Linked DNA regions of Homo sapiens. The protein of the gene in region 1 interacts with the protein of each later gene in a biochemical or structural test. Each region holds a gene or a part of one and is shown on either strand. Other genes may lie near its edges. The genes, in order: PLCG1, SH2D1B, TUB, RAC1, KDR, DUSP15 and NCAM1.

Region 1 (4,030 bases):
CCAGGGGTGAGCAGGTGGGTCAGCCAGAGGTGTACAAATTCAGTGATCTCATCAGTTAGCTGGGATTTAACAGGCCTGGAGAGTAGGCAGAGGATGTAGGAGGACCCTGGCTTTTGGATTTTGGGGGCTCAGATTGAAAAGAGCCTGGATGAAAAGTCTGGTCGATGCTTGTGTGTTCAGACTTAACTAATGGAGGCTTCCACTGAAGCCGTGCCCTGCTTCTACCCATTCGTGGGCTCTCCTTGTTGGTGGGTTCTGATCCCTGCGGCCTCTGAGGAGGTTGGACTGCCAGCCGGGTTTTCTGCCACCTGGACTCTTGCCCAAGCACCTCAGGTATCTGGCCTTTCCTGCTGACCCTACCAGGGTACCAGCAGTGCCTGAAGCCTGGCCTAAGAGAGAGACACTGTGCTACCTTCAGGGTGTTGGTAGACCTGAGGGAGAGACAGTGTGGTTTAAGGAGCACTCATACTGATATGTAAGACCTTCTTCTGCCCTGACTCTGTGCCCTCTCTTGTCAGCAGTTGTGAAATGGAGCTGACACCTCCTGATTTCTAGGGTGGTCATTTGGCTCAAAAGCGGGGTGGGGAAGTGCTTAGGTGTTGACAAGTTTGGTTGTCCTGGTGGTATGACAGGAACCAGGTTGGTGTTTGGCCTTTTATGTTGCAGATACTGACATAAATGAATAAAATGCAGTTATGTAGAGTTCCAGCTGAGTGCTATTGAGACCTTTCGTCCCATTTTACAGATGAGCAAATGGAAATGGAGAATCGTTTGTGCCCAAGGTGTTGTGTCAGTGTGTGCCAGGGCCTCAGCTGGGGCCAGCTCACTAGTCAGAGGCTGACTAGCAACCCCAAGCCCATGTTCCCTGTGGTCCACGTGGCTCCTCTGTGAGACACCTTTGTGCTCAGACCATGCATTACAGGGCAAAGACCACTTTGGCTTTTGTATCCCAAGACAGCCTCAGCCTCTCTAGGCTCTGGCTCCACACTTTTTCTTCTGGTGTTTTCTGAGTTGAGATGGTTCAGACTCGTGTTTAATGAGGTTGTCCATTTGAGGGTCTTTGTGGGCCCAGTAAACACTGGTGTAGACACTGTGGAGGTACTCTGAATACTGGCTGAGCATGTCCATGGGGACTTCTGAGGCCCCAGGCTTCTGTCTTTGGCTGATCCTTCACTAGATACTTTTCTAGATGCCAGGCCCTCTGAGGTGAAGGAGTATGGGTGCTTGCTTTTAGGGAAATGAAAACAGGCAATGACAATTGTGAGCAGTACCTTTGATGAAGAGGGTGAGGGTGGCGGAAGAAAACAGCTAACTGCCTTGATGAGGCAGGCGGGCTCAGAAGGGAGGTAGTAGTGGAACCAGCTGGCTGGGGCTTGACCCCTGTGGCTGGGGAGCAGACCACACCAGGAGGCCTGCTCCGAGGGCTAGGCCCACAGCACGGGAGAGGGCAAGGCCCAGGCCGGTGTCATCAAGGGTTTTCTTTGTACTGGCTGTTACTCCCAGTGGGAGAGGGGCAGGAGCACATGTCCGGATCTCCAGAGCTAGCCATCCCTGCCTGTGTATTTCCTGTCTGATGTAGTTTTTTCCAAGGGAAGTCAGACCTTTTAGTGTTTCCTCAGCACCCCAGGCTTGCCCCGATGTGTGGGTTTCCAGGCCCCCCCGCCCAGCTGGGATCCTCTGTTTCCTGTGAACCTAGGAAAAGGGCCTGCTTCACAGATAACTGGAGGAGCTGAGCACACCCAGTCCTGGGACCCACAACACCTCCAGCTTCTCTCCAGACTCTTGTGTGTGTGTGTACACAGATGCACAGGATTCAGTTGGAGTTTAGAGATCTTGGCTACCAGCTTTGCTCTGGGTAGCTTCTTGGAATGAGGCACATTTATTAATATTTGCAATAAGTATTATTATACCTCCCCATTTGCCCAGTGCTAGGCACCAAGGATTCAAAAGTTTATTGAGACATGGTTTGTGCCATTGATGAACTCTTGGAAAAGACAGATGTAGAGGCATATGATTATAACCCTGTGTGTTACATACCATAATATAAAGGCCTCTACCAAGAACTGTGAGGAGCTCTGCCAGGAAGGCATTAAAGGAGAGGTGACCTTTGAGGTAGGCCTTGAATTACTGAGGCACCTGTCTGTGCCGAGGCTAAGGAACTGGGAATCACTCTGTGCAGGGGTAGGGAACAGATATGGTGTGGTAGAGAGGAAGCTGGGACTGGTTGGAGACAGCTATAGCCCTAGTGTGCCATGTCCAGCAGATTACACTCAGTCCTGGAGGCGACGGGAGTCAGCGGAGGCTGTTGTGGGACTGACTTGCCTCTGCCTGGGAGACCACAGTGGCAGTGGTTTGTCAGGCAGGTGTTGGGGAGGGAGGCCAGTGAGCTCCTACGGTTTGCACAGTTTGCAGGAGAGAGCTGCTGAGGGCCCAGACAAGACCTTCTTGCTGAGGCAGGGTGGGGATGCCATGGTGGTAGATGGGAGAAGGGCTGGGTCTTGAGGGGTGAGACAGAGCTTAGTAGTTAAGCATTTGGGCCCTAGACTCTGCTTGAATTAAAATCCTGTTGTGCAGCTTACTTGCTCTGTGACCTTAAAGCATATGACTACCTCTCTGGGCTGCTTATCTGTAAAAAGGATAGTATTAAATGGCATTTATTTTATAAGGTTTTTGTGAGGATTTGATGAGAACCTGTATAAAGTGCTTAGCACCTGTATAAAGTGCTTAGCATGGAGTGTGGCACAGTGTAAGTGCTTACTACGTAGGATCCCTGACAGGACAGAGATGAGGATTAAGTTCTCAGGAGGACCTGGTGGGGAGGAGTTCGAATGCACCTGCTGTCCTAAGGGGCTGGTGCCTGGCCACCAAGCCCTTTGATTCAGAGGCAAGGAGGCCCGCCCATCCTCTCTTGCAGCTCTCAGCAGTCCCTCTATTGTCAGGGCTCTTTCCCACTGCTGGTTTTGCAGGGAGACAGGGCAGTTGGCTGGAAGCAGCTGCTTTGGGTGGTAACCCCTTCTGTAGAGTGAAGGTATGATATTGTCCTATTTCTAAGTGCCTAGCCCAGGACGCTATCTGGAGAGATCTTGTCTTTGAGGAAGTGCTCTAATGCCACAGCCTCGATGTGGTAGGGCCTGCCTCTGCTGTCACTGTTCTGTGTCAGTCTCCGTTAACTCACAGCATCTCTTCTTACTCTGTGCCTTTTCCTGTGGGATGTGGCTTCAAGGAGACCACAGATGATAAGTTGGAGGAAGGGAGTGAGGCCTGAGATTGCAAAGGTGTGATATTAGGAGACTGATTTTTCCCCCTTTCCACTTGCTTTGTTAGAACTAGAGAAGTCACTGCAGACTGTGAGGAGAGTCCTAGGAGAGATGGGTGTGGGATAGGAGGATGGGAATGTTCTGGTGCCCCTTGTAGAGTGCCTTGTTGAGAGGAGCATGGGAACAGTGCGTCCTTGGAGGGAATCTCTGAGAGCAGCATGTTTACAGGTGGCAAGACTCAAGGTGGAGCCACGGGTGAGGAGTGGCTTCAGGCTACCATTGACCAGATAGTCCCACCTTGCTGGTAATTGAGCTGAAGTGCCTGGAGATTTGTGGCTAGAGCTGGTCAGATTTGGGTTCAGGTCTCAGCTCTTACTGTGACCTTGGGCAGATTACTTTTCCCTGTCTGAAATTGATCTTTAGCTGTAAAAGTAATTTCTCCTCACAGAGCTGTATATTAATAATAAGGGAGATTATATATAAGAGTAAGAGATTTTATGTGAAAACTACCCAGCACAACATTTGTCACTTAGTGGCCACTTAACAGTATTCATTTCCTTTACTCTCACCTTTGTTAACCACAGAGCTCCAATCTTTTCCACCACTAAGCTCGGCCACAAGTGGCTGCTCCAACAACCTGGGCTAGGAGTCTGTTTCCTACTTGCTTTCTGTGTTCCTTCCCTGAGTCTGTACACAGAGGACTGGGGCATCAAAAAACTCTGGAATTGGAATAGCATATTGGGAGTTCATGGAACATTTTCTCACCTGTTGTA
Region 2 (4,030 bases), on another chromosome or scaffold:
AAGTGTACATACATATGTCAAAATCCATCAAATTGTACACTTTTTATTTTATGTCAGTGATACCTCAATAAAGCAGTAAGACATATTCATGGCATAAAAAGGTAGATGAATATAATTTATCTTTCTAATATATAAACTAAATTTTAATTCCTTATACATATGTGCTTTTGCTGTTTTCATGATTGGTTTTTGGCCTCAGATAGAAAAAGTGTTTCCTATTTTTGCAGTTATGTTCTCAATAAATATGTGGTGTCTTGACTCTCTGTGTGAGACTGATACCCAGTGGAGCCTACCTTTTTGTTTATTCTATGGAAATCGTTGTCGTCATTTATGAGAAATACACTGGACTTATAAAAAACATTTAAAAATCTTAGGCATTAATTTCTCAGTTGAGGTTCAAAAAGGCTGGAATACAGGACCTCTAAGTTTTCCCATATCTTTGAATTGTTTTACTCTATCTATTTAGCTTTCAAAGTGATCGTTCCATGAGGTGCTGTGCACGGATCTCTGAGTCCTTGCTCAACGCATGAACAGCCCACAGATTAGCACGGTCTCATGTTGTGGCCATTGTTGTGGGGAAACTTGTTTGTGTTCAAGTTTTTATTTTAACTAACCTTCAAAAGGTCAGCTGAAGGAAATGGAATCGACTGCACCCTATAATATCAACAATGTGTTCTGCATTTTTCCATGCCATGATGCAAGTGGGAAATCCAAGTCAACAAAGAAATATTTTAAGACTTTTGACCTCTGGCCTTATCACTGTTCCTGATCTCAGTGTATCTTGGTGCAACCTTTTGTGGTACTAATTTTTCAGTGTGCATGAAGATTTTTTTAAACATCTAGGATTTTATCCTAACTAGGGAGTAAGGCAAACTTTCACAGATGTAAGTACAAAAATGTTAATCATTCCAAATTACACTGAGTCCACTGGACTAAATTGCAAATGAAAATTGAAAATAACCTAATGTATGATATGTATACATTATGATATATCAAATCAATAAAATACTAAGCAGTCATAAGGGGATGACCTGCTTTCTTTGATGGGGAAAGAGACCTACAATTATGGAGAAAACAGGTTGCAAGCCATCATGTATAATGAACCATTTATGTACATATATTGGTTTATAGATGCGCAGAGAAGTCTGGAGAGATGTATGCCAAAATATTAAAAATGGTGATTTCAGAGTGGTGAGACTGATATAGTTTGTTTTGTTTTTTATACCTTTCTCTATATTTGATTTTCTAAAATGAATTTTCATTAGCTTGATAAACCACCACAACAAAATGGATCATTTCTTTTCTTTCTGTACTCTACAATCCTTGCAAAAGTCTCAGAATCTGAGACTCATAAATGACTCTCAAGGCAATAGATAGACATTGCCATTATTATTCTTAATGAGAGCATGCAGTAGGTTAGGGCTCAGGTCTTCCTCACCTGCAGCCTTCCTATGGCTTTGCAAAGTCCTCCTTTTCTTCACACTTGCAGATGAATCCTTTGCACCTCCTAATATCTACTCCATTTAATTTTACTGATGATAAAGGCAGACAGTTTAGACACTCACAAAGTCACACTACACAGACAACCTTTTACACACTGGAGTTTTCTAGACACTCTATTACATTGTAAGATCAGAAAACATTTCCTGTCCACAGTTACCACATAGCTTTCTGGTTAGTGCCATATGCTGCTAGGTCAGCTCTCTCTGTGACCTCCTTCTTTTATTTCTAACCTTCCTCACAGTATTTTCATCACTAAATATTTAGCTCTGTGAAAGTCCTGAAGTATCGGGGGAACCAGCCCCCAATATTTCAACGTAGGTTCTTTTCTATTCTCCCTAAGTGTCGGCCAGTCTAAGAAATAAAGGGAAAGAGTACAAAACAGAGAAATTTTAAAGCTGGGTGTCCAGGGGAGACCCATTTTAATGCAGCAGAGAAGAAGGGGACACTGCATATCAGAGTCCACTCCCAAGCCCTCAGGTCCCCTGCTTGGGCATTTTATAACACAGATCCAAGGTGATTACCTGAAACATATTTCAGTGAAGCTGGGGACATTGGTAAGAGAGGGAATGTAATAACATATTAGCAATTTGGCCCTAGGCAAGCTATTAAATAAGAAGCTACAGTTTATTTTCTCACAAAATAGTGATCATGTCGCCTACCGCAAAGGGATTGCAAATGACAAATAAGATAATGCATGTACCATGCTTAGCAAAATGTTTGGCTCATAGATAATACCTACATGGTAACTTTTTCTGTGTCAGTGAAGACAAGCAGGCTAACACTTGTATCATAATAGTAATTCTTGCTTTGCTTGCAAAGGGTTGTATCTTGAAGCATGAATTGGTTGATGTGACCTCTTCAGAGAAACCTTTCCTGTACCCAATGGAAAGCAGCAGCTGTGTCTCTCCCTGTCATATGACTCTGTTTCATTTTCATCATATTTTCTCCTCTTACTGAAATTAACTTCATGAGGGCAGAAACATTGCCAGTAGTATTTATCACTGTATTACCAATGCTTAGGACCACGCATGGAACATAATAAGTGCTCAGTATATGCTTGTTGAATGAATGAAGGTTCCACTTATTCTCCTAAAGTCTCAGCTCCAATATCTGGTTCTCCCCTTTTTGCTGTCAGCTCTACAGTGCCCTAATGATAGTCCAATCATCATAATTATCACATGCATCACTGTGTCTGTTTACTTCTTTATTTTCCCCACTAGGCTCTGAGTTGTGTTGAAGGCATCAACCGAGTGTCTAGCACACTGTCTGACATATGAGAGAATTCAAATATTTGTTGAACAACTAGAATTTAATAGTCCATACTTATCTGTATGATAATACATTTTTACAAGGCCCTATGAGGAGATAGCTTCAGGGGTCACTTGACCTAAGCCTTAAGCCTGAGGGTGAATGAAATGTTGTTTGCCTTTCAGTGACATGTGTAGGGAGGTGGGTGAGACCTGATCATGTGCAGGGGCTTAACAAATATTTATTTTTGCCTCTCCACTTGGTTTATTTTCATTTTTTAGCTTCTCTTTTTTTCTCTTCTTTTTTTTTTTTTTTTTGAGATCAAGTCTCGCTCTGTAACCCGGCTGGAGTGCAGTGGTGCGATCTTGGCTCACTGCAACCTCCGCCTCCTGGGTTCAAGCAATTCTCCTGCCTCAGCCTCCTGAGTAGCTGGGACTACAGGCGCATGCCACCACACCCAGCTAATTAGTTTTGTATTTTTAGTAGAGACAGAGTTTCACCATGTTGGCCAGGATGGTCTCAATCTCTTGACCTAGTGATCTGCCCGCCTCGGCCTCCCAGAGTGCTGGGAATACAGGTGTGAGCCACCACGCCTGGCCCATTTTTTAGCATCTCTTAGTGACCTTTGCTTTAGATGAATATGCAAGATGGGCTGATGCACCACAGAACAGTTGAGAATAAATATCAATTTTCAAAGAGAATCCCAATATAGGCTGGGTGCAGTGGCTCATGCCTGTAATCCCAGCACTTTGGGAGGCTGAGGTGGGTGGATCACTGGAGCCCAGGAGCTCGAAATCAGCCTGGGCAACATAGCGAGACCCCATGTCTACAAAAAATTTAAACATTAACCAGGCATGGTAGTGCGCACCTGTAGTCCCAGATACTCAGGGGGCCTGAGACAGGAGAATCTCTTGAACCCAGAAGGTTGAGGTTGCAGTGAGCCATGATCGCACCACTGCACTCCAGCCTAGGAGCTGGAGTGAGACCCTGTCTAAAAAAAAAAAAAAGAAAGAAAGGAAGGAAGAGAATCCCATATTGACCATATACCCTGAGATCCTGGCCAAGGTCTGTCCTTGCACCTTCTTGTTTTTTCCCTTCCCACTGCTTGCCCCAGCACAACTAGCTCTTCACCGTCTCCCGTCCAGAGACACAACAGTTTCTGTTGCCATCATTTCCCAGCTTCATTGTGTTCTCCACGTCAAATTGAAGTTCCTAAATTCACCAGTCTTTTCACTTCCCTGCTCAGAAACCATCCATGTTTCCCTGTTATCTATAGAAC
Region 3 (4,678 bases), on another chromosome or scaffold:
TGTGTGTAGGGGTGTGTGTGTGTGCACTACATGAACTGTGATTGGCCAAAAGGAGGCTGAGGGTAAGTGCTGTAGACCCAGACCTTTTGTGTGTGAATGCTAGCTTCATCATTGACCAGCTGTGTGACTTTGGGCAAGATCCTTGCCTTCTCTGTGACTCAGTTCCTCTGCTGTGAAATGGGTATGCTAATGGTGCCTACCTTCTAGGGTGGCTATGAGGATTAAACGAATTATAATATGTACGTAGCACCTAACACAGCTCCTGACGCCCAGCAAATAATCCAAATATTGTGGGTTATTGTGTTTTATAATTAATGGGCAAGAGAAGGCAAGGCTGAAGGGCTGGGAGAGCCCTGGGGTGGGGGTCTGGCTGTAGCCCCAGGGCAGCAGGATGAGCCCCCTCCCTCAGCCCCCTTGGCTGTTCTCACACTCTCTGCGGGGCAGTCCTGACCGCCTATTTATCATCAGAAGATCCCCGCACAACACTCTTCTGGCGCGGTTGGCGCGGCAGAATCCAGGATGCACACGAGGACGCCCACGGGGCGTGTGGGGACCGTGCCCCTCCGCAGACCTCTCCCGGATCACCTGCTCCACACGCAGGCCTTGGTGACCCCTCAGCCTGCTGCTCCTTGCTTCCGCCCGCCCTGCTGTGGGTCCCGCACCTTCTCAGTGTGCCATGCCTTGCATTCAAGCTGGTCCTAGTCACAGCCAGGACCTCCTCAGCGCGCAGAGACTTTCAGATGATCTTTGTAGGGGTTTTTGCCTCCGGTCAACTGCGCCCCTTAGGAAGGGCTTTGGAGGACACAGATCACAGAACAGTTTCAGCTCCACCACTTCCTAGCTTTACGGCCTTGGGCATCTCAGCATTCCTATTCTCTGGGTTATAGGGATATGATGTTTGTCTCTCAAGGCTACTGTGGAGATTACATACTAGAAATTTGCAAGGGCTGGGAATGCAATAGACCGTAAATGTTCCCCTTCCCTTGACGCTATAGCTTAGATGGGAGGGAGCCACTGCTGAGGAAACACCTCCTTAACCCAAAGACAGAGGGTTCCCCAGGCGGGGGTGTGGGAACTCGGAGGTGGGGGTGAGGGAAGGCCAACCTCCACGCTTCGGCCCGGAGGTTCCCCCGCCTCTTCCTGCACGACTGGATTCCTTCTCCATCCGCGCCTCCGGCCCGGTCCCTGCCCCGCCAAATCCGCGCATCGGTTTCCCATCCCATAGCGCAGATAGGTAGGGCAGGTACACAGGGAGGTGTTCGAATGATCCCCGTTTCACAGAAGACGAAACTGAGGCTGGGAGGCCTGGGGACTGGCCCGGCTGCAGCGCCGCCGTTAGCCGAAGGTGGGAGCCGGCGCGGTCACGCGCATGGAGCGTGGATCGCGACGATTTCGGGGGAGGGGGCAAGGGCGCTCCGCAGGCCCTGAGCCGGCCGGGGGGTGGGGTCTCTGCGGGGCGGGGCGGGGCGGGGCGAGGGAGAAGGGGCAGGCCGCCGCTGCCACGCAGTACTCCCGCCTTGGCGCCAGAGGGGCGCGGGACGGTGCGGTCGGCCTCCCCGCCTCCACGCGCGCGCACGACCCGCGCACTCCCGGAGCTTCGCCCATCTCGCCTCGCCGCGCCGCGCAGGCAGCCGCTCGCAGAGCCAGCAGCCGGGGCCCTGGCGTGCAGCGCGGGCCTCGGCGGGGCCCAGCGCCCCGGCCCGGGAGGATGCGGCCCGGGGCGGCCCGGGAGCTGAGCAGGGCCCCCGCGCCGGCCCCTCCGGGCCCCGGCCTCCAGAGCCGCAGCCACCGCCCCGCCCCCGAGAGACATGACTTCCAAGCCGCATTCCGACTGGATTCCCTACAGGTACGCGGGCGCCGGGCCGGGGCGCCCACCACTCCCGACTCGGGACGTGAGCTGGCTGGGGATACGCGGCCGGGGCGCAGGGCACCGCTGCCCTCCCCACCTATCCCAGCACTGGGGCGCGGGTTGGAGTCGCTGGTCCTTCCTCCCTCAACTTTGAGGGCCCCTGCGGACTGCTCCCGCCTGCCCCGCTCCACCCCCTTATCTGCCAGGGTTGCTGGAAGGGGCCTGTGTGGGCCTTGTTGGGTCAGGCAGCACCATGTGGCCGCCTGGGGAAGGAGTCCACACTGCTCTGAGCCCCCTCCTAGGCCCAGAACCCCAGTCACACGCCTGTGCAGGGTGCGCGCACACGCTCATACATCTGCACGCATGCACCCACAGGACGTCCCTGCCTTGGGCCAAAGACGCTCCTGCTGGTCGGTTCACACTCTCAAAGCATGGATCCGTGAAGACAGTTATTCTGAACCAAGAGCACACCAGTGGTCATGTGGACATGCACCCGTATATTCTACACACAAGAATTCTTGGGCTCACAAAGACACATGCCTGCATATCTGTGCACGTCCACCTCCTGTATCTGGAGAATAACTGACACCTGCTTCTCACTCACAAGTGCTACTCAGTCTCTTTCAGACACTGAATAATCTACTTGCTAGCAGGTCTATACCTAGACACACACCAGCTCACAGTACATAGAACTGCCCTCACATGCAGAAAGGCACTCAAGAATCCAGGCACACTCAGGGAAGCCCCCCACCCTCTGCTGCCAGGCACTGTGGTCTATCTCAAGGATGGCTGGGCTTTCCCATTTGCCTGGGAAGGGGGCGGGGAGGTGGTCTCTGGGGGGCCCCTCACAGGTGCAGGTCTTTCCCTATCCACTCTACTCCATTCTATTACCAGGGAAGGGAGCTCATCGCCATGGCAGCGCCAGATTCTTGGCCACCCATTGGCTCCTTGGTTGCCATGGGCTACGGGGCTGTCTCTGTGGAAAATGGGTGCTGGACTCCTAAGGCCCACTGTGTTATTGTCGACCCAGGTGCACGTGCTAGCGGACGGCAGGATGAGATCCTCAGGTCCCGCCTTGTAACACAGCTTGCTCTCTGTTAGAGCCTCATACCAGTCACTGATAGAAAATAGTTCTGACAGGGCTCTTCTCTGAGTCTGTCCAGACAGCGTCCCAAATGGAAACCAGCTGAAACCGCCCAAGGCTTCTTAAAAGCAGATCCTTCTGAAAACAGGCACGTGGCCTGGGAACTCAGGGTTTCTCTTGAGAATTGTTACCTCTAATCTCAGCTCCTGTGGGGGATTCAGGGGTTTCCAGGTTATTTTGTGTCTCTCCCCACAACCACCAGCAACACCCTCACACGTGCGCACATACAGGTCACCCACAGGCTCTCCTGCAGACACATGTAGTCACACTTCAGTCTCACATGGATTAGGGAGCTGTTTCCATCATGGAACCAGGGACTGGGGCTGTGCTGACTGAGAAGAGCTGCTGCGCCAGACAGACGTCCAGGCTGGGGCACAGGTAGTTTCTGGAGGATCCTGGCCTTTCTTGGCACATGTGGGCTGAGGACCTTCTAGAAGACAGTGCAGCCCCATGGAGCGTCATCAACCTTTTCTAGCCACGCGGCAGAGGTGCCTGGGCGGTGCTTGTGGGCTGAGTGGACTCCGGTGCTGTGGAAGTACCTGTGTGCGGGGGTCCAGATGGCAGGGTGGTGGCCATGGACCGAGGAGGGTGGGAGGGGCAGCACTTACGGCTGTGGAGATTATGACGTGGTTAGGATCTGGCAAACTGGAGGTTGGGCCAGGCCAAGACATGGTTCTAGAAAGCTTCTCCCAGGGAGCCAGGGACTAAAGCCACTTGTAGAGAGTGTGCAGGGGTCTTAGAGAAAATATGCCTCAAACGGAATGGCTTAAGCCTGTTCCTGGGAAAGGTGGCCCAGGAAGGTAGAACTGTCTCTAGGAAATGATCCTGTTCTAGCAAGTGCCTAGGGCCCTGGCATCCTGCAAGGAGTGATTTGGCACTTGCCTCAGCCCAGGTCCAACTACTATCTCCCCTCCACCGCCACCCCTCCAATTCCTTTCCTGGGCCGCAGACTCAGCCCTGAAGCATAGAATCCTGCCTCCCTGGAAGCCTGGCCCCGAGGAGCGTCTCAACACCCTTATAGCCCTGCACTGCTTGCTTTCCCCATGCCTGTCACTCCACCTCCTCGTTCTGTTGTAGAGAGGGGGGTGTGTAGCTGGAGGCAGGCTATGTCAGCAGTTGCCAGGATCCCCCCTGCCCTGCTGGGGTCTTTCTGGGCACGCACTGAGTGTGGCAAAGTACTGGAACTGGGGTGCAGACTTCCAAAATGGGAGACTTGGGCTGAGAGGAGGAGATTCAAATTGCCTCTTGCATTAACTGGGCTGCTGATTGCAGTCAAAGCCACATGCTGTCTGATCACAGAGAAAACTGGGGCAGAAGACAGACAAAGCATTTTACTTGCAGATGGGAGTGGGGGCAGGGGGTGGCATGCACGTGCTTTGACTGGTGTGAGGTTTCCCTAATGTCACAGCATGTCAGAGCTGGAATGTGGCATTTGGTTTGGGAGAGAGGGGTTGGCTGGCTTCTTGCTGGTTCTGCTGGTGAGGGTTTTACTCCCTCTCTAATGGTTACACCTTGCATTCCCTGGGCCCAGCTTATTTTCTTTAGAGAAATGATAGTTGGTGATAATCTTCTTATGGGTAATTTTGGCTCAGTGTATAATGATCATGGATTAATCTCACATTCTGAGTTCAAAGGGAGCCATTGAGTTTATAAAGTTTAACAATTGGAATGTTTTTGTCTTTTGT
Region 4 (3,500 bases), on another chromosome or scaffold:
CCCTGAGGCCCGGCTATGTTCTGGGAGAGCCCTTTGGCAGGCATCATTTACAGACGGGTCCTTTTCCTGTATGCTGTGGCTTCAACTAGGCTGTGTCTGAGAACTCGGATGGAGCACTTGAAAGTGCCCGTGGCTCCCGCCTGCCTTTGCGGTAAGGGACAGTGCAGAACATCTCCGGCTGTGCCAGCTGTTGTAGATTCTGGTGGGTGCTGCCATGGGAGGAGGAGCACGTTGTTGCCCCCCCTCAGGATCTCCCTGACCTCTGTCTTCACCATCGTTGAACTTAACGCCTGCTTTTGACCAGGTAGCGTGGAGTGTTTCAGTGGCATTTGTCATCGAAGATATGTTAGAATCTATTGTATGCTTTTGGATCTCTCCGGAGGGTTAAGACAAAATTCTAATAAAGAATCGATAAGAGGTTATATTGATTTTTGTTGTCCTCAGTCTGTACTAAACTCAAACCAAGTTCTCATGCATTACTAGGTTGGAGAAACGTACGGTAAGGATATAACCTCCCGGGGCAAAGACAAGCCGATTGCCGTATGTAAAACTTTCAGTCCACTTCAGTTTCAAGCTTTCTCTGTTCTCTCATTTCACTTCGTTTTCCTAGGATTTTTTATTAAGCCTCAAGCTCCTTGAGTGTTTTATATTTAATTCACTCAAGGTTGGGGTTTTGCTTGATGAAATAAACTTCATTAGAGTGTGATAGTTTACCCACCGGCTTGAATTAAAGCAGTTTGTGAACTGTGATCTTCTCCTCCCAAGTGAAAGGAGGGGACAGTGAGAGGGCCCCTCTCCTGGCTGGTTGGAGATGCAGATATGGAGACTCCTCCCGGAAGCCCACCTGGCTGTGAGCCGAGCCGGAGCAGGACTAACCTTGTTGCCGGGGCCTTCTTTCTCCGCTTGGGTGTCCCGTGTGGTGGGGCTGTCTGGGCGTGGCTGTGCAGTGCTGCTGAGCTAACCCCACCGTGCTTGAGATGGTGTGCTGGGTGCCGCGGTGATTCTTGGACGAGCTTGTGCATGCGCCAGCATTCTTCAAATGCCAGTTATAAAAAGCTGTTGTGTGGGATGTTTCTTTCCCTTTCAGGTACAAGGTATCAGCTGGAGGGTTGAAAGTGTAGCTTGGGAATTGTGTGCATTTCATAAAGTAGCATAATTGCCTTTTTCCAGGAGAATATTTTAGAAATCTAGCATTTTAGAATTCTTGGGCATTTTTAAATACAGGTGAATATTTGAATTTGGTTTGACACAAAATACAGAATGGATGAAGCATGCAGATGTTTGGCGTGTGCCCCGAAGCACCCTCTACTCTGTCCTCTGCACCCACCCTTTGCGCCTCTGCGTCAGCCACAGCTGCCCCGGGAGCGAGTTCTCCTGAGGCCCTGGCTGTGCTGACTCTAGGGCAGCGTGAGGGTGGTTGTCAGCTGTGAAGGTGCCACTTACACACTAAGTCCTCCTTCCTTGTGGAGGGAAGGGCTCAAGTAGCAAATATTGGAGCCCCCGCTTGGTGCTGGGAGCTGTGACAGGCAGCTCCTGAAGAAGCAGTTTAATTGGAACCAGTGACCATCTAAAACTGTTTGTACTCTAAACCAGATTTTACAGAAATATTGGAATCATACCTTTATACTTGATTTTTTCATTTTAGATAGTTAGGCGTAAAGGAAGCCTCCTGAGGGTCTGGTCTGATCCTCCTGATCCTTGAAGAGCTTCCAGCATCATTCTCCCTTCATGCTCCCCATTTTCATAAGTAACTGGTGGCTTGACATGCTGGGTTTGGTTTGGGAGCCCTCTGACAAACTGAAAGGGTGGATCAGGAAGCGTCTGACCACACCACTGGTAGACACGCTCTGCGTCCAACAAGTCCTTCCCAGCAACATGTAGAAAGCAAAGTGCATGCTTCATTCTAAGGTTGTTGTCTAAATGTTTCCCTGTGTTTCCTTTTTGTAGGATGTGTTCTTAATTTGCTTTTCCCTTGTGAGTCCTGCATCATTTGAAAATGTCCGTGCAAAGGTAGGTGGGGATTTAAAATGTGTATGTAAGTTATAGAATGATCCTCTCAGAAATAAATACTTTAAAATATCACTTAGCCTAGGAATTTTTAGTTATTTAAATTGGTTTTAGCAATTTGCTACTTAAGTACATGATTGGGTTTTTTTTTTTCTTTTGAGACGGAGGTCTCACTCTGTTGTGTCCAGGCTGGAGTTGTAGTGGTGACATCAGAGCTCACTGTAGCCTTGAACTCCTGGGCTCAAACAGTTCTCCTGCCCCAGCCTCCTGAGTTGCTGGGACCATAAATGTGCACCACCATGCGTGGCTAATCTTAAAAGAATTTTTGTATGGCTGGTTTTGTAGACCCTGGCTTGTCTCAAACTCCTGGGTTGAAGTGATCTTTCAGCTTCAGCCTCCCAAAGTGGTGGGATTATAGCTGTGAGCCACTGCATCTGGCCCATCAGCAGTTTATTTTATTTATTTATTTTTGAGAGAGTCTTTTTTTTTGTTTTTGTTTTTGTTTTTGAGATGGAGTTTCACTCTTGTTGCCCAGGCTGGAGTGCAGTGACGCAATCTTGGCTCACTGCAACTTCCGCCTCCTGGGTTCAAGTGATTCTCATGCCTCAGCCTCCCGAGTAACTGGGATTACAGGCATGCACCACCACGCCCGGCTAATTTTGTATTTTTAGTAGAAATGTGGTTTCTCCACGTCAGTCAGGCTGGTCTCGAACTCCCGACCTCAGGTGATCCGCGCGTCTCGGCCTCCCAAAGTGCTGGGATTACAGGCGTGGGCCACCGTGCCCGGCTGAGACAGAATCTTGCACTGTCATCCAAGCTGGAGTGCAGTGGCACAATCTTGGGTCACTGCAACCTCCCCCTCCCGGTTCAAGCAATTCTCCTGCCTCAGCCTCCTTAGTAGCTGGGATTACAGGTGCCCGCCAACACACCTGGCTAATTTTTGTACTTTTAGTAGAGACGGGGTTTCACCATGTTTGCCAGGCTGGTCTCGAACCCCTGGCCTCAAGTGATCCACCCGCCGCAGACTCCCAGAGTGCTGGGATTTCAGGTGTGAGCCACTATGCCCGGCCTAATACGTGGATTTTTAAAGCTTCAGGTTCTGGTTCAGAAGTTTCCTGGGTCTCATTAAAATAATGAGGCACTCAGAATTGGTCTAATAAAAATAACGACCATTTCTTTCTACTCCAGTCTCTTTCACAAACTTCTTAGTGAAAATGACAAGTGAGGCCCTTCAGTAGGGGCATTTTCAGTGGAGATAATAGCGGCAGACCTGAGACCTTGGGCTAGGTAGTTTATTCTCATTTCTGAACAGATGATGAATTTTCTCAGATGACCCTAAGAAATTGTTTTACCAAAAACAAAGTGATCTATTTGCTTTGGGAGGAACTCCCTTCCTTTTGTTTCTCTTCCCTTCCCCCCTTCCCCTGCGGTTGTAGAGCCCGTTCTGTCCGGTCGTGGTTCTGTCCAGCCATGATCCGGGAGTCCTAGCTTGC
Region 5 (3,145 bases), on another chromosome or scaffold:
ATTGCTTGAGACACCTACATTAGTTTTGTTGGGGTTGAATTGAAAGAAAAAATTGTATTTCTCATTATTTGAAGTAACTTTTAAACTATGTATAAACACGAGTTACTAAAATTCCCTTTTGCAGTTTTAACATGAAGAAGTTGGGGAAAACACCTATTACCGGGAAAAAACACCTTAGAATGGCTTGTGAAAGTGTAAATCCTGAAGTTTTAGATCAACACAGCCTGCATTTCTAGGCTTTGACATGATTACCGTCTGTCAGGATTCCATGCCATTGAAAACATTTTCTAGTTGCTGCTGAGTGACAGGGGTTCTCAGTCCTTCCAAGGAATGTGGTTTTGATGAGTAAAAAGCAGCGTTTGATATGTCTGGCTTGACTGCACACATGCTTCAAGTTATTAAAGTTTAAAGTTGCTCAAGAGCTTTATTACAACCATACACATGCCCCGTAATTCCCAAATTGCCACAATAGGAAAAGCACAAGTGAAATTTAAGAACATCCCAATTTCCTTGAATATCATGCAAGTGGCCCTTTGGCGCCTGTCACTGTATACAAATTTGTCAATCTGCGAGGCCATAAACATGTTCCATCAGTTGGGGCCTTTGCATAACTCGAGAGAACTGCCTTTCATCTCATTTGAGGCTTGAAAGACTTGGACCTGAGTAAGAGGACTTATCTGCAACTACTAATTCATGCGAGTACCTGAAAATAGACCTTGTCCCTGTAAACCTGCTATGCTGATTAACAACTGGGAGAGATACGGGGCTGCGGTCTCCAGGGAGATGGCAGCCATATGGAGTTGGGAATGGGGTGAGGGTAAAAAGCAAAAGAATTGTCTTCTCTCTGCCAACTCCTTTGTTTGCCATTTCTTCTGCAGTGGAATGGTGCCCAGCAAAAGCAGGGAGTCTGTGGCATCTGAAGGCTCAAACCAGACAAGCGGCTACCAGTCCGGATATCACTCCGATGACACAGACACCACCGTGTACTCCAGTGAGGAAGCAGAACTTTTAAAGCTGATAGAGATTGGAGTGCAAACCGGTAGCACAGCCCAGATTCTCCAGCCTGACTCGGGGACCACACTGAGCTCTCCTCCTGTTTAAAAGGAAGCATCCACACCCCCAACTCCTGGACATCACATGAGAGGTGCTGCTCAGATTTTCAAGTGTTGTTCTTTCCACCAGCAGGAAGTAGCCGCATTTGATTTTCATTTCGACAACAGAAAAAGGACCTCGGACTGCAGGGAGCCAGTCTTCTAGGCATATCCTGGAAGAGGCTTGTGACCCAAGAATGTGTCTGTGTCTTCTCCCAGTGTTGACCTGATCCTCTTTTTCATTCATTTAAAAAGCATTTATCATGCCCCCTGCTGCGGGTCTCACCATGGGTTTAGAACAAAGACGTTCAAGAAATGGCCCCATCCTCAAAGAAGTAGCAGTACCTGGGGAGCTGACACTTCTGTAAAACTAGAAGATAAACCAGGCAATGTAAGTGTTCGAGGTGTTGAAGATGGGAAGGATTTGCAGGGCTGAGTCTATCCAAGAGGCTTTGTTTAGGACGTGGGTCCCAAGCCAAGCCTTAAGTGTGGAATTCGGATTGATAGAAAGGAAGACTAACGTTACCTTGCTTTGGAGAGTACTGGAGCCTGCAAATGCATTGTGTTTGCTCTGGTGGAGGTGGGCATGGGGTCTGTTCTGAAATGTAAAGGGTTCAGACGGGGTTTCTGGTTTTAGAAGGTTGCGTGTTCTTCGAGTTGGGCTAAAGTAGAGTTCGTTGTGCTGTTTCTGACTCCTAATGAGAGTTCCTTCCAGACCGTTACGTGTCTCCTGGCCAAGCCCCAGGAAGGAAATGATGCAGCTCTGGCTCCTTGTCTCCCAGGCTGATCCTTTATTCAGAATACCACAAAGAAAGGACATTCAGCTCAAGGCTCCCTGCCGTGTTGAAGAGTTCTGACTGCACAAACCAGCTTCTGGTTTCTTCTGGAATGAATACCCTCATATCTGTCCTGATGTGATATGTCTGAGACTGAATGCGGGAGGTTCAATGTGAAGCTGTGTGTGGTGTCAAAGTTTCAGGAAGGATTTTACCCTTTTGTTCTTCCCCCTGTCCCCAACCCACTCTCACCCCGCAACCCATCAGTATTTTAGTTATTTGGCCTCTACTCCAGTAAACCTGATTGGGTTTGTTCACTCTCTGAATGATTATTAGCCAGACTTCAAAATTATTTTATAGCCCAAATTATAACATCTATTGTATTATTTAGACTTTTAACATATAGAGCTATTTCTACTGATTTTTGCCCTTGTTCTGTCCTTTTTTTCAAAAAAGAAAATGTGTTTTTTGTTTGGTACCATAGTGTGAAATGCTGGGAACAATGACTATAAGACATGCTATGGCACATATATTTATAGTCTGTTTATGTAGAAACAAATGTAATATATTAAAGCCTTATATATAATGAACTTTGTACTATTCACATTTTGTATCAGTATTATGTAGCATAACAAAGGTCATAATGCTTTCAGCAATTGATGTCATTTTATTAAAGAACATTGAAAAACTTGAAGGAATCCCTTTGCAAGGTTGCATTACTGTACCCATCATTTCTAAAATGGAAGAGGGGGTGGCTGGGCACAGTGGCCGACACCTAAAAACCCAGCACTTTGGGGGGCCAAGGTGGGAGGATCGCTTGAGCCCAGGAGTTCAAGACCAGTCTGGCCAACATGGTCAGATTCCATCTCAAAGAAAAAAGGTAAAAATAAAATAAAATGGAGAAGAAGGAATCAGACATAATTTCCATGTGGTTGTTTTACATTTTTACTGGTTTTCTTACTCTTCTTATAAGGGATATTTTCATAAACTGATTATATATTTTACAAACCAATAAATGTATTTGTAGTACAAAGTATGAGGGTATAATATCACCACAACTATTTTGAGGATAAGTATGTCTGGTTTAAAGTTTAACTGCTTCTTCCCTCTTCTTCTTCATTACAAAGAATTCACACACACACACACACACACACACACACACACACACACGCCACGCATACACCCCCCAACACCCACACCTCCTCCCAGCCCCCCCACACCCACACATCCAACCCCCCATACTCACACTCACACCCCCTCACAGTCACACCCACCCCC
Region 6 (4,671 bases), 9.3 Mb from region 1:
TTCTACTTTTTAAATGTGGCTGCACATGTGGCTGGCATTATATTTCATTTGGACAATGCTGGTCTATACCATTAGCTAATGAAGGTAGGAACAATCTCTACCCACTGCTGTGTCCCTAGTCTCTATCATATACTAGATGCTCAGTAAGTATTTACTGAATAATTTGGTATTTATGAGAACTCTGGGCTTTTATGAGAGCTGAGACGGGCAGCCCCATGTATGCTATGAACTTGAGGGAGGAAGAAACAGTTTTATTTTTCTCCAATCACTGTATTTCAAAGGGCTCTGTGGATTCTCTCTGTCCTGCTCTCTATCCACAATCCCCAGTCACCTACTACTATAGATTGAGGGGTGGGGGTGATGGCTGAAGGAACAAAGCTGGTGCAGCTGCTTCTATTTCAGTCCTATAGGAAGTGTCTTGATTATTTTACATTCTCCAGCTTTGGTCCTAGAAGCCAGGAAGGGCTCACCTCAACATCCTCAGAAACACAGATAGGGTTAGCTGGGGGTCACGGGGACTTTCCCAGGGTCATCTAGCAGGTCAGAGGTGAACAGGGCCTCAAACCTTGGTCTCCAGACCCCTTCCAGGACCCTGACCTCTAGCTATTAATACATCCTGATGTAGTCTCCTTCAGACTGGAACCCTCCCTCAAACCCCTCTCCCAACATTCACCTGTAATTTCTTGGGGCACCTAATGGCAGTTGTGCCTGGTCCCAGCAGAGCTTCCCTGGATGGCACCATCCCTCCTAGGGGCCGAAATGGATGGAAGGAAGGAGTGAGAGGATGGATGAATGGATGGGAAGATGGACGAGTGAATGAGTGAACAGGAGGGTGGGAGAATGGATGGGAAAGGAGGAAGGCTGGTTGGTAGGGTGTCTCTGCACGGGTGGAGAGGATGTATCGGAAGGAATTACCCACTTATCCCGTTCCAAGCAGACTCTGAAGAGCAGAGAGCCCTCGGCGATCAAAGTCCAGCCCCGTCACGTTTCTGCTAGAAGCCGAGGCGGGAGAAGTTGGGTGCTTTCCCCCGGGGCCCGCAGGGACGTCCAGGCAGAGCCGGAAGGGGGACGGGAGTTTGTGGGCCGGCCGGGGGGCTCTAGGCGACATCCCCCCATCCGCCCGCGCCTGCCGGTGCCAGGGTGGGGTAAGGCCCCCGCCCCCACCTCCGGAGGTGGCGGCCCCACGCGGCCCCAACAAACTGCCGTTGTCCCGCGGGCCGTGGGCCCGGCACACTGGGGCTTTGTCCGGCCCCCCGCCGCGACCCGAGGCGGGGGCCCCACATGACCGAAGGGGTAGGAGGAGCCTGCGGCGGCGGCGGTGGCAGCGGCGGCTCCACCACCATTTCCCTCCCGGGCCGGGGGTCGGCGGGCGGTGGCGGTGGCTGGGCAGGGCTGGGCAGGGCCGCGGACGCCAGGCCCCCCGTTCCCCGCCAGGCTGCAGGCGTCGGGCCTGGGCCGTCAGGGCAGCTGTGACCGGATCGCTTCCCGGGCGGCGAGCTGGGGGTGCACCCGGACCGCCGCCCCCGGGATCATGGGCAATGGCATGACCAAGGTAGGGGGCGGGCCCCGCGCAGCCTCCCCGGTCCCCGCCCCGGCCGCCGCGGCCCGGCGCTGACCAGCTCGGTCCGCCCGCCTCTGACCTTCTGTTCTCGCCGGTCTCCGTGCGGCGGCATCTCCGTGTCCCTGTGACTCGAGACCGCGGCTGTCGGGTCTCCCCCTCTCTGACCCTGCGTCTCTGTCCCCGCTGTGTCCGCCCTCTCTCCGTGACTCTGTGTGTCTCTCGCTGTCTTGCTGTGGCTGTCACTCCCAGGCTGTCTCCCAGTGAGTCCTGCTCTCCGTCTGCATGTGTCCCTCTCCCTTGTCGCTGACTCCTCGGCTCTCTCCGGGGCTGTTTCTCCATCCTGTCCCGCCTCTGCCTGTCATTGCCTTTCTGCCTCCCCAGCCCCAGAATTTCCATCCCTGCACCCTGCAAGTCTACCTCTCTCCTCTCCTCTCCTCCTAAGACCTGCCTTCCTCCTCTCCCCTCTCATACCCAAGCTGGCCTCCCTTGGTTCCCTCGGTTGGTTAACTGGCCCCCTAGCCTACCCTCCCCAGAGCCCCAGACCCCTCTCACAGAGGACTCAGGGCCCACAAAAGGGAAGAGAGTGCTCCCTGAGCCCTGAGGTCCATACCCTTCATGGGACAGAGAGGGGCTGTGGGCCCCCCAGCTGCCCTGGGGGTGGAAGGGGGTGCAGCCCCTGCCCCACTGACCCTTGCCTGTCCTTCCTCTAGGTACTTCCTGGACTCTACCTCGGAAACTTCATTGGTGAGCACTGCCCACTCTGTCCCGAGGCCATGGCACTCTGCCTGTCTCAGGCCTGTGTCCACCATTCATGCCCTGGCCCATGCATCTCAGGAATGGGGTTGGGGGCAGGGAAGCGGCCCCAGGCTGGGAGGGGGAAAAGGCTGATGGAGGACAAGGGGTGCACATGCAGGCGAGTGTCCCCAGGCTTGAAGGGACATGGAGGGAGCATGGGGGCCTGACACTGACATCCCTCCCCGCCATTCAGCCTTCCCCAGTGTTCTACCACCAGACCAAAGGGCCAGAGCAAAGGGCTCGGGGCCTGGGCTGTGGACCTGAGCAAGTCTACACCTGCGCTAAGCCTCAGCCTCCTCCTCAGCACAAAAGGTCCACCAGCTGCTGAGCACTCTTCTGGCCCTGAGGTTCTGGGTTGAGGTCTGTTTGCGGGTGCTGCTTCTAGCGGGGAAGCTGGGAACTCTTCCCCCCATAACTTCCTCCTTGTCAGAGGAGAGGTCCCTGGAGATGGGCTGGGCCTTCTTGTGAGCAGGGTCATGAGCACCAACACTGTCGCACCCCAGAGCCCTGGAGCAGCTGGGCAGCCTAGAGCTGGAAGTTGGGGGGGCGGTGAGCCGGCAAGCTTTGCATTCCCCACTCTCTCATCCATTCCTTCCACAATCTTCAGTCAGGAGGAGGGGACACCCATGTATAGATACCTTGTTCTTCAGGGGCTTCCAGGCTGGTGGCAGGCAGGCAGAGCTGAACATAGACCTTGGGTAGAAAACATGCTGGGTAGAAACCATGCTAAGGGGGCTGGGCGCAGTGGCTCACGCCTTTAATCCCAGCACTTTGGGAGGCGGAGGCGGGCAGACCACCTGAGGTCAGGAGTTCGAGACCAGCCTGGCCAACATAGTGAAACCCCGTCTCTACTAAAAATACAAAAATCAGCCAGGCACGATGGCAGGCGCCTGTAATCCCAGCTACTTGGGAGGCTGAGGCAGGAGAATCACTTGAACCCGGGAGGCGGGGGTTGCAGTCAGCCGAGATCGTGCCACTGCACTCCAGTCTGGGCAACAGAGCGAGACTCTGTCTCAAAAAAAAAAAAAAAAAAAAAGAGAAAGAAAAAAGAAAAGAAAACATGCTAAGGGGCAGACTGATCCAGGGCTTGGGTGACTCAAAGTGGGAAAATCATTTCCATCTGCAGAGTCAGAAAAAGCTTTAGAGAGGGAGGGGCTCAGGTGCTTCACCCTTGTAAATCCTGGTCCCTTCCTTCCTGGGAGCTCCCTCAGCCGCTCATGCCACCTTGATTTCTGTGAGTATTTGGCCAAGTAAGGTCTGAACCCTCTGTAAGTGTGCAGGCCCCATAAGGGCAGGAGCCACGAAGCTGGCCCCAGACCTCCAGTGCCCAGCCAAAGTATACACATGGTTAGCACTCGGTAAATGCTCATCGAATGAGGAAGTGGAGATAGAGGGGACATGTGTTATTCATTCTGAATATAAAAGATCTGCATATGCTGGGTATGCAGCCCCTAGAGAGGGCCACTGTTGGGTACATCCTTGTTCATATATCTTTGTAGATAAGGACATAGTATTTAAAACAAAAGTGGAAGCTTATTCTGTATCCTTAAAAATACATTGTGGGCATCAGCCGGGCACGATGGCTCACGCCTGTAATCCCAGCACTTTGGGAGGCCAAGGCGGGCGGATCACGAGGTCAGGAGATCGAGACCATCCTGGCTAACACGGTGAAACCCCGTCTCTACTAAAAATGCAAAAAAATTAGCCGGGTGTGGTGGCGGGAGCCTGTAGTCCCAGCTACTCCGGAGGCTGAGGCAGGAGAATGGCGTGAACCCGGGAGGCAGAGCTTGTGGTCAGCCGAGATCGCGCCACTGGACTCCAGCCTGGGAGAGAGAGCAAGACTCCGTCTCAAAAAAAAAAAAAAAAAAAAAAAAAAAAAAACATTGTGGGCATCATTGCACATCAGCATATAGAACTCTTTTTAATGGCGGCACACTGTGCCAAAGTATGCCTACACCATTAATCATCCAGTCCCTTTTTAATGAACACCAGGTTGTTCCCATGTTTAAACTATTTGTGATATAAGCAGGACTGCAGAGAACATCATCCTCCACACACAGCTTTCTGTGTGAGCAAGCGCTTCTGTAGACAAGATTCCTAGAAGCAGAATTGCTGGGTCAAAGAATATGCCTGGGAAGGGTGTTTTGGATGGAAAGAACAGAATGAGCAAGGATGGGGATATGCTGTACTGTTACTTGCATGTGCCCCAGAAGCAAGAGGATCAGGGAGCCGGCAGAGCGTGGGCCAAGGTGGAGTGGTGGGGTGAGAGGGAGAGCTGGGCAGGCAGTGAGCTCCCTCCGCACTTGGCCATCAGG
Region 7 (4,030 bases), on another chromosome or scaffold:
GTAGTTGTTGGACAGGACTATGAATCGGACTAGAAGAGATAAGAGGCAGGTTCATCCAAGAATCAGTCAGAGAGCATCTGCAGGCAGGTGGCTGAGTCTCTTTCCTTTTTCCTAACTTCAGTATCATAGGGTGGGGTTTTAAGCCCAAATAAGAAAATGCGTCCCTGGCTTTGAAATACAGCCAAGAGTAAATGTCTATTAGAAATTTGTCTTTCGTACTGGAGAGAAAATCAGGTACCTAAGTATACCAACTTCAGATATGCATCTATTCAGGACCCAGAAACCACATGAGGGTTCGGGCACACATGAATTGGAGTTTGGACTGGAATGCCTCAGTACAGGTGAAAAAGCTAGGGAACTTGGTGGCCTGGGGAAAAGGCAGATGCCAGGAAATTCAGGTCTCACCATCTTTTTTCAGGATGACATCTCGGCCTTTGTGTTTCCAGATGATGGTTGGTGGGAGGGAGCTGACCACATCACACACAATCACGGCATCTTCCCCCTCCCGGAACTCCTGTGGGGTTGGCGCATTCTTGAACATGAGCTTCTCTGGAAGATGAACAGAAGAGTGAGGGAAAACAGCTGCTTCTCTCACAAAGAACCCCTTTCACTAGAGCCATGGTACCTGGACTTGAGTCCTGGGCAAGTCTCGATCCTGATGTACAGTTGTATAAGAGGGGCACCCTCAGAGACGTCAGGCAGAGCAGCTGGCCCAAGCATAGGTTACCAATGCTTGGCAACCAATATCTGCTCATTGAGTGCTAAATTTATCACATTTTGTGCAGAAAAGGGTCTACAGAATGAAAGGAATATCTTCACCAAGGGTTCCTTGTCATGCAGGATGATGCCAGTGAAGCACAGGTTATAGGTAGAATGAACTGGTGGAACATCCATTCCACAACGAATAGTAAGAATCATCAGTCCTTTTCTTGTCTCCCACTCGAACTGCTACTCCCAGTCCCACCCCAACTTTCCTACGGCAGACAGAATGCTGATGAAAAGAACAGGAAAAAAGCACATTTAATGGCAATAAATACCGTGCAATCAATACTGTTCCATTAGCTGTCACCCACCATTACTCCAACCACTGGGATGGATGCATGATATAAATAACAAGGTAACGAGATGCCACCTACAGATGGGGTTTCAGAGGCAATAGGAACTGCCTGCTCTGAGTGGCAGAGAGTGTTCAGATAATGATCCCCCACCCCACTGAGCCCTGGGCTCCATTACCAGCAGGGGAGAGGGAAATAAGAAGGGAGAGGAGCCCAAATTGCAGAACAGTCAGCCAACATTTGGGGAAGGGATAGAGAAACCCGTAATAGCCCTCTGGGAACTATGTAATTTGAATTTTGAGAATGAACGCCTGTGGGGGAGTAGCTGTGACCAGTGTGAACCAGGGTTGTGAGTTCTGGGTTGGCCAAGGTCAGAAAAGACTTAGGGAGAGAGAATGGGACTGGTTAGGCCCTCAGCTGGTCCTTCTGTCATCATTTCCACCTTTCCACTACCCACATGTCTCCTTGGCAAGGAGAGGCCAGAGAATGCAGAAGAAGAAGGAGGCTCTTACGAAAGATCTTCACGTTGACGGTGGCCTCTGACTCACTGCCATCCTCGCCTGTAACCACACACTTGTAAATGCCGGCGTCGTCGATGTTGGCGTTATAGATGGTGAGGGTGGAGGAGGAATCATCATTCCACACCACTGAGATCCGCTGCTGGTTTGGGGTGAGCTTTTCTCCATTGGGGGAGAACCAGGAGATGTCTTTATCTTTGGCATCTCCTGCCACTAAAGAGGAAGAGATTATTTTTAAGCTACTGAAGTCGAAAAGACTAATAAGTCCCCTCCAGACTGACAGTGGCTGATCAGTAAGAGTTACTGAACAACAGATCAGTCAAGGCTTGAACATCAGGGAGGGGTGAGTATGGCTGCTGGAATGACATGCAGCCCTTCTTTGGCCTCTGCATTTAACTATTATATACTTAACACCTCTTACAATATTTGGAAAGAACTCAACAACCACTTGTACTAGTTGTTATCATGGTCCTATCCCTAATGATGGAAGAGAAGAGATACTTGTTGAGAACATACTGTGTGCTGGGCACTAAGCTAGGAACACACATGCCTCACACAACGGGTAACCAAGGGAATTAGTGTATTTAGGATTCGGGCGCCAGAGCCTAACTGGTCTGAGTCTACTGATCAGCTTGTTTTTGAAGCCTTGGATAATGGGTCTCCTGAGATGAAGGCGAGAAATACTGGCTAGTATAGGAGTGCAGATTCCAACCACTTTTTATTTCATTTTTTCCAGCCACATTTATTCTAGCATCTGCCTGCACAAACTGGCATGACTGTCATTTCGTCACTCCCTGCTCAGACAAATTCATTTCCTTGCATGCTGCAAAGAAGGTAGCCAGAACCACCCATTCTTCCTTTCCCCAGGCAGCAATGAGGAGGAACAGACTGTGGTGGCTGAGCTGCCCCCGGCACTGAGCTGGAACAGGGCTCTGACACTGAAACTGCCCAGGACACTGAGCTGGAAGGGCGCTCAGATCCGGCGGATGTGGCGGCGCCCTGCCTGTTTGCATGGGCCCCTGCCTCTTCGCGTGGCGCCCTTCTCAGCCTGCACCACCCAGCCCTGCACAGATGCTTAGTATGGAAATGAAGCAGTCTTCCTTTCAGGGCCCATCATGTTTTCAATAAATATCGCTATTTGCAAGATGTGCTGTGGGCTCCACGGCTGCGTCTCCAGATCATTGAAATTGCTGTAATGAAGGCAAAGCTGGAGTGAACACATCCGACGGCCACAAGCCACCTCGTCCACGCAAATCATGACAGCATTTAAAGGCCCCTCCCTGCCAAAAGCTGCTTGCTAAATGTCACCATTTACACCTAGCTCAGCTCTTTCCTGGTTCTTCCATGTTCTGAATCCCAGTCATGTCATATACAGAGAATCTGAGGCTTAATTTGAAACCTTTTCCTCCACAGGACATTTTCTGGCAATTATCTGGGCTGTGGAAATGGGGCATGTTTTCTAAATGTAAAACAAGGTCACCAGGTCTGGCATATCTCAGAGCTCTGGTGGGGACCATGGCACAGAATATCGATATTCACAATAGACCTGGTAAACCCAGGATATATGTCCTCACAACAAAAGCCATACCAGTATTCTATTTACCTACAGGCAAGTTTTAGACTTAGATTTTCAAGCTCTGGGGAATTCTAAGAAATAAGCCTTAAACAGATCCACCGAAGTATTGTTTCTGAGCCAGTGCTGTTCTCCATTGTCATTTACAGAACTCTGAATGTATACAGAATAGGAGATGGGGGATGATTCACTATTCTGGAAGTTGTGCTGATTTTTCTAAGAAAACTCCTAGACTTCCTCTGTAGTCAAGGTGAAGTCTAGATGACAGATTTGCTATGTTGAGGCAGATTTTTGCAAAAGGAAGGAAGAGGCCCTGGCTCTTAAATGGCCATACTATTGACCCTGTAATAGAGCAATGCCAAGAATTCTAGGTGTGGCTTGACCAGCCAGCTCACATGGCCTGAGGGCTCCTGCTCTACCCAGTGAGTTTCTGAAGCAAGTTCTAAAATGCAGCTGAGCACTAGGCACTTGCCTTGGCATAAGAAGAATTTGGACTCTCCAACGCTGATCTCCCCCTGGCTGGGAACAATATCCACCTGCAGAGAAACTGAAAAAACAAAACAAAACAAAACAAAACAAAAAACAAAAAAAAACCCACAAAGTTCAGTTCAAACGTACATTCCAATGTTCAAGAATGAAACCCAGATCTTCCATTCAAAAATAGGCTTCCCAACTGACTTTAAGAAAGAGTGAAGGGAGGAGGTTGTGTGGAGTTTGAGAACTTGTGCCACCAACAGCCAGGGCCATGTGCAGCCAGAGAGAGACACGGCCCAGACCATTCTCCTATGGAATAGCTATTTCCCCTCAGAGAGTGCAAGGTGCCCTGGGAGATTCTGGGTGATCTCTGCACTAAATGTTTCCAACCCCTTGAGAAGACTTATGAT

Evidence for each region.
Region 2: the proteins of PLCG1 (region 1) and SH2D1B interact in a biophysical measurement, tested with the Homo sapiens proteins (one study listed by IntAct).
Region 3: the proteins of PLCG1 (region 1) and TUB form a complex in vitro, tested with the Homo sapiens proteins (one study listed by BioGRID).
Region 4: the proteins of PLCG1 (region 1) and RAC1 form a complex in vitro, tested with the Homo sapiens proteins (one study listed by IntAct).
Region 5: the proteins of PLCG1 (region 1) and KDR form a complex in vitro, tested with the Homo sapiens proteins (one study listed by BioGRID).
Region 6: the proteins of PLCG1 (region 1) and DUSP15 interact in a biophysical measurement, tested with the Homo sapiens proteins (one large-scale study listed by IntAct).
Region 7: the proteins of PLCG1 (region 1) and NCAM1 form a complex in vitro, tested with the Homo sapiens proteins (one study listed by BioGRID).

Annotation. Positions count from the first base shown.
Region 1 is NC_000020.11:41,140,096-41,144,125, forward strand, and holds part of PLCG1 (1-phosphatidylinositol 4,5-bisphosphate phosphodiesterase gamma-1), read left to right. Parts: intron 1-4,030. UniProt on the Homo sapiens protein: Mediates the production of the second messenger molecules diacylglycerol (DAG) and inositol 1,4,5-trisphosphate (IP3). Plays an important role in the regulation of intracellular signaling cascades.
Region 2 is NC_000001.11:162,405,364-162,409,393, forward strand, and holds part of SH2D1B (SH2 domain-containing protein 1B), read right to left. Parts: intron 1-4,030. UniProt on the Homo sapiens protein: Cytoplasmic adapter regulating receptors of the signaling lymphocytic activation molecule (SLAM) family such as CD84, SLAMF1, LY9 and CD244. In SLAM signaling seems to cooperate with SH2D1A/SAP.
Region 3 is NC_000011.10:8,079,703-8,084,380, forward strand, and holds the start of TUB (tubby protein homolog), read left to right. Parts: upstream 1-1,508; 5' UTR 1,509-1,808; coding exon 1,809-1,846; intron 1,847-2,182; exon of another isoform or gene 2,183-3,297; coding exon of another isoform or gene 3,298-3,371; intron 3,372-4,678. UniProt on the Homo sapiens protein: Functions in signal transduction from heterotrimeric G protein-coupled receptors. Binds to membranes containing phosphatidylinositol 4,5-bisphosphate. Can bind DNA (in vitro). May contribute to the regulation of transcription in the nucleus.
Region 4 is NC_000007.14:6,398,179-6,401,678, forward strand, and holds part of RAC1 (ras-related C3 botulinum toxin substrate 1), read left to right. Parts: intron 1-483; coding exon of another isoform or gene 484-540; intron 541-1,947; coding exon 1,948-2,010; intron 2,011-3,500. UniProt on the Homo sapiens protein: Plasma membrane-associated small GTPase which cycles between active GTP-bound and inactive GDP-bound states.
Region 5 is NC_000004.12:55,077,897-55,081,041, reverse strand, and holds the end of KDR (vascular endothelial growth factor receptor 2 precursor), read left to right. Parts: intron 1-878; coding exon 879-1,101; 3' UTR 1,102-2,561; downstream 2,562-3,145. UniProt on the Homo sapiens protein: Tyrosine-protein kinase that acts as a cell-surface receptor for VEGFA, VEGFC and VEGFD. Plays an essential role in the regulation of angiogenesis, vascular development, vascular permeability, and embryonic hematopoiesis.
Region 6 is NC_000020.11:31,867,198-31,871,868, reverse strand, and holds the start of DUSP15 (dual specificity protein phosphatase 15), read left to right. Parts: upstream 1-1,341; 5' UTR 1,342-1,531; coding exon 1,532-1,552; intron 1,553-1,637; exon of another isoform or gene 1,638-2,059; intron 2,060-2,079; exon of another isoform or gene 2,080-2,163; intron 2,164-2,271; coding exon 2,272-2,305; intron 2,306-2,468; exon of another isoform or gene 2,469-2,716; intron 2,717-4,671. Other genes in the region: probable tubulin polyglutamylase TTLL9, read right to left, coding at 674-742. UniProt on the Homo sapiens protein: May dephosphorylate MAPK13, ATF2, ERBB3, PDGFRB and SNX6.
Region 7 is NC_000011.10:113,202,042-113,206,071, reverse strand, and holds part of NCAM1 (neural cell adhesion molecule 1 isoform 2 precursor), read right to left. Parts: intron 3,694-4,030; coding exon 3,619-3,693; intron 1,787-3,618; coding exon 1,568-1,786; intron 550-1,567; coding exon 406-549; intron 30-405; coding exon 1-29.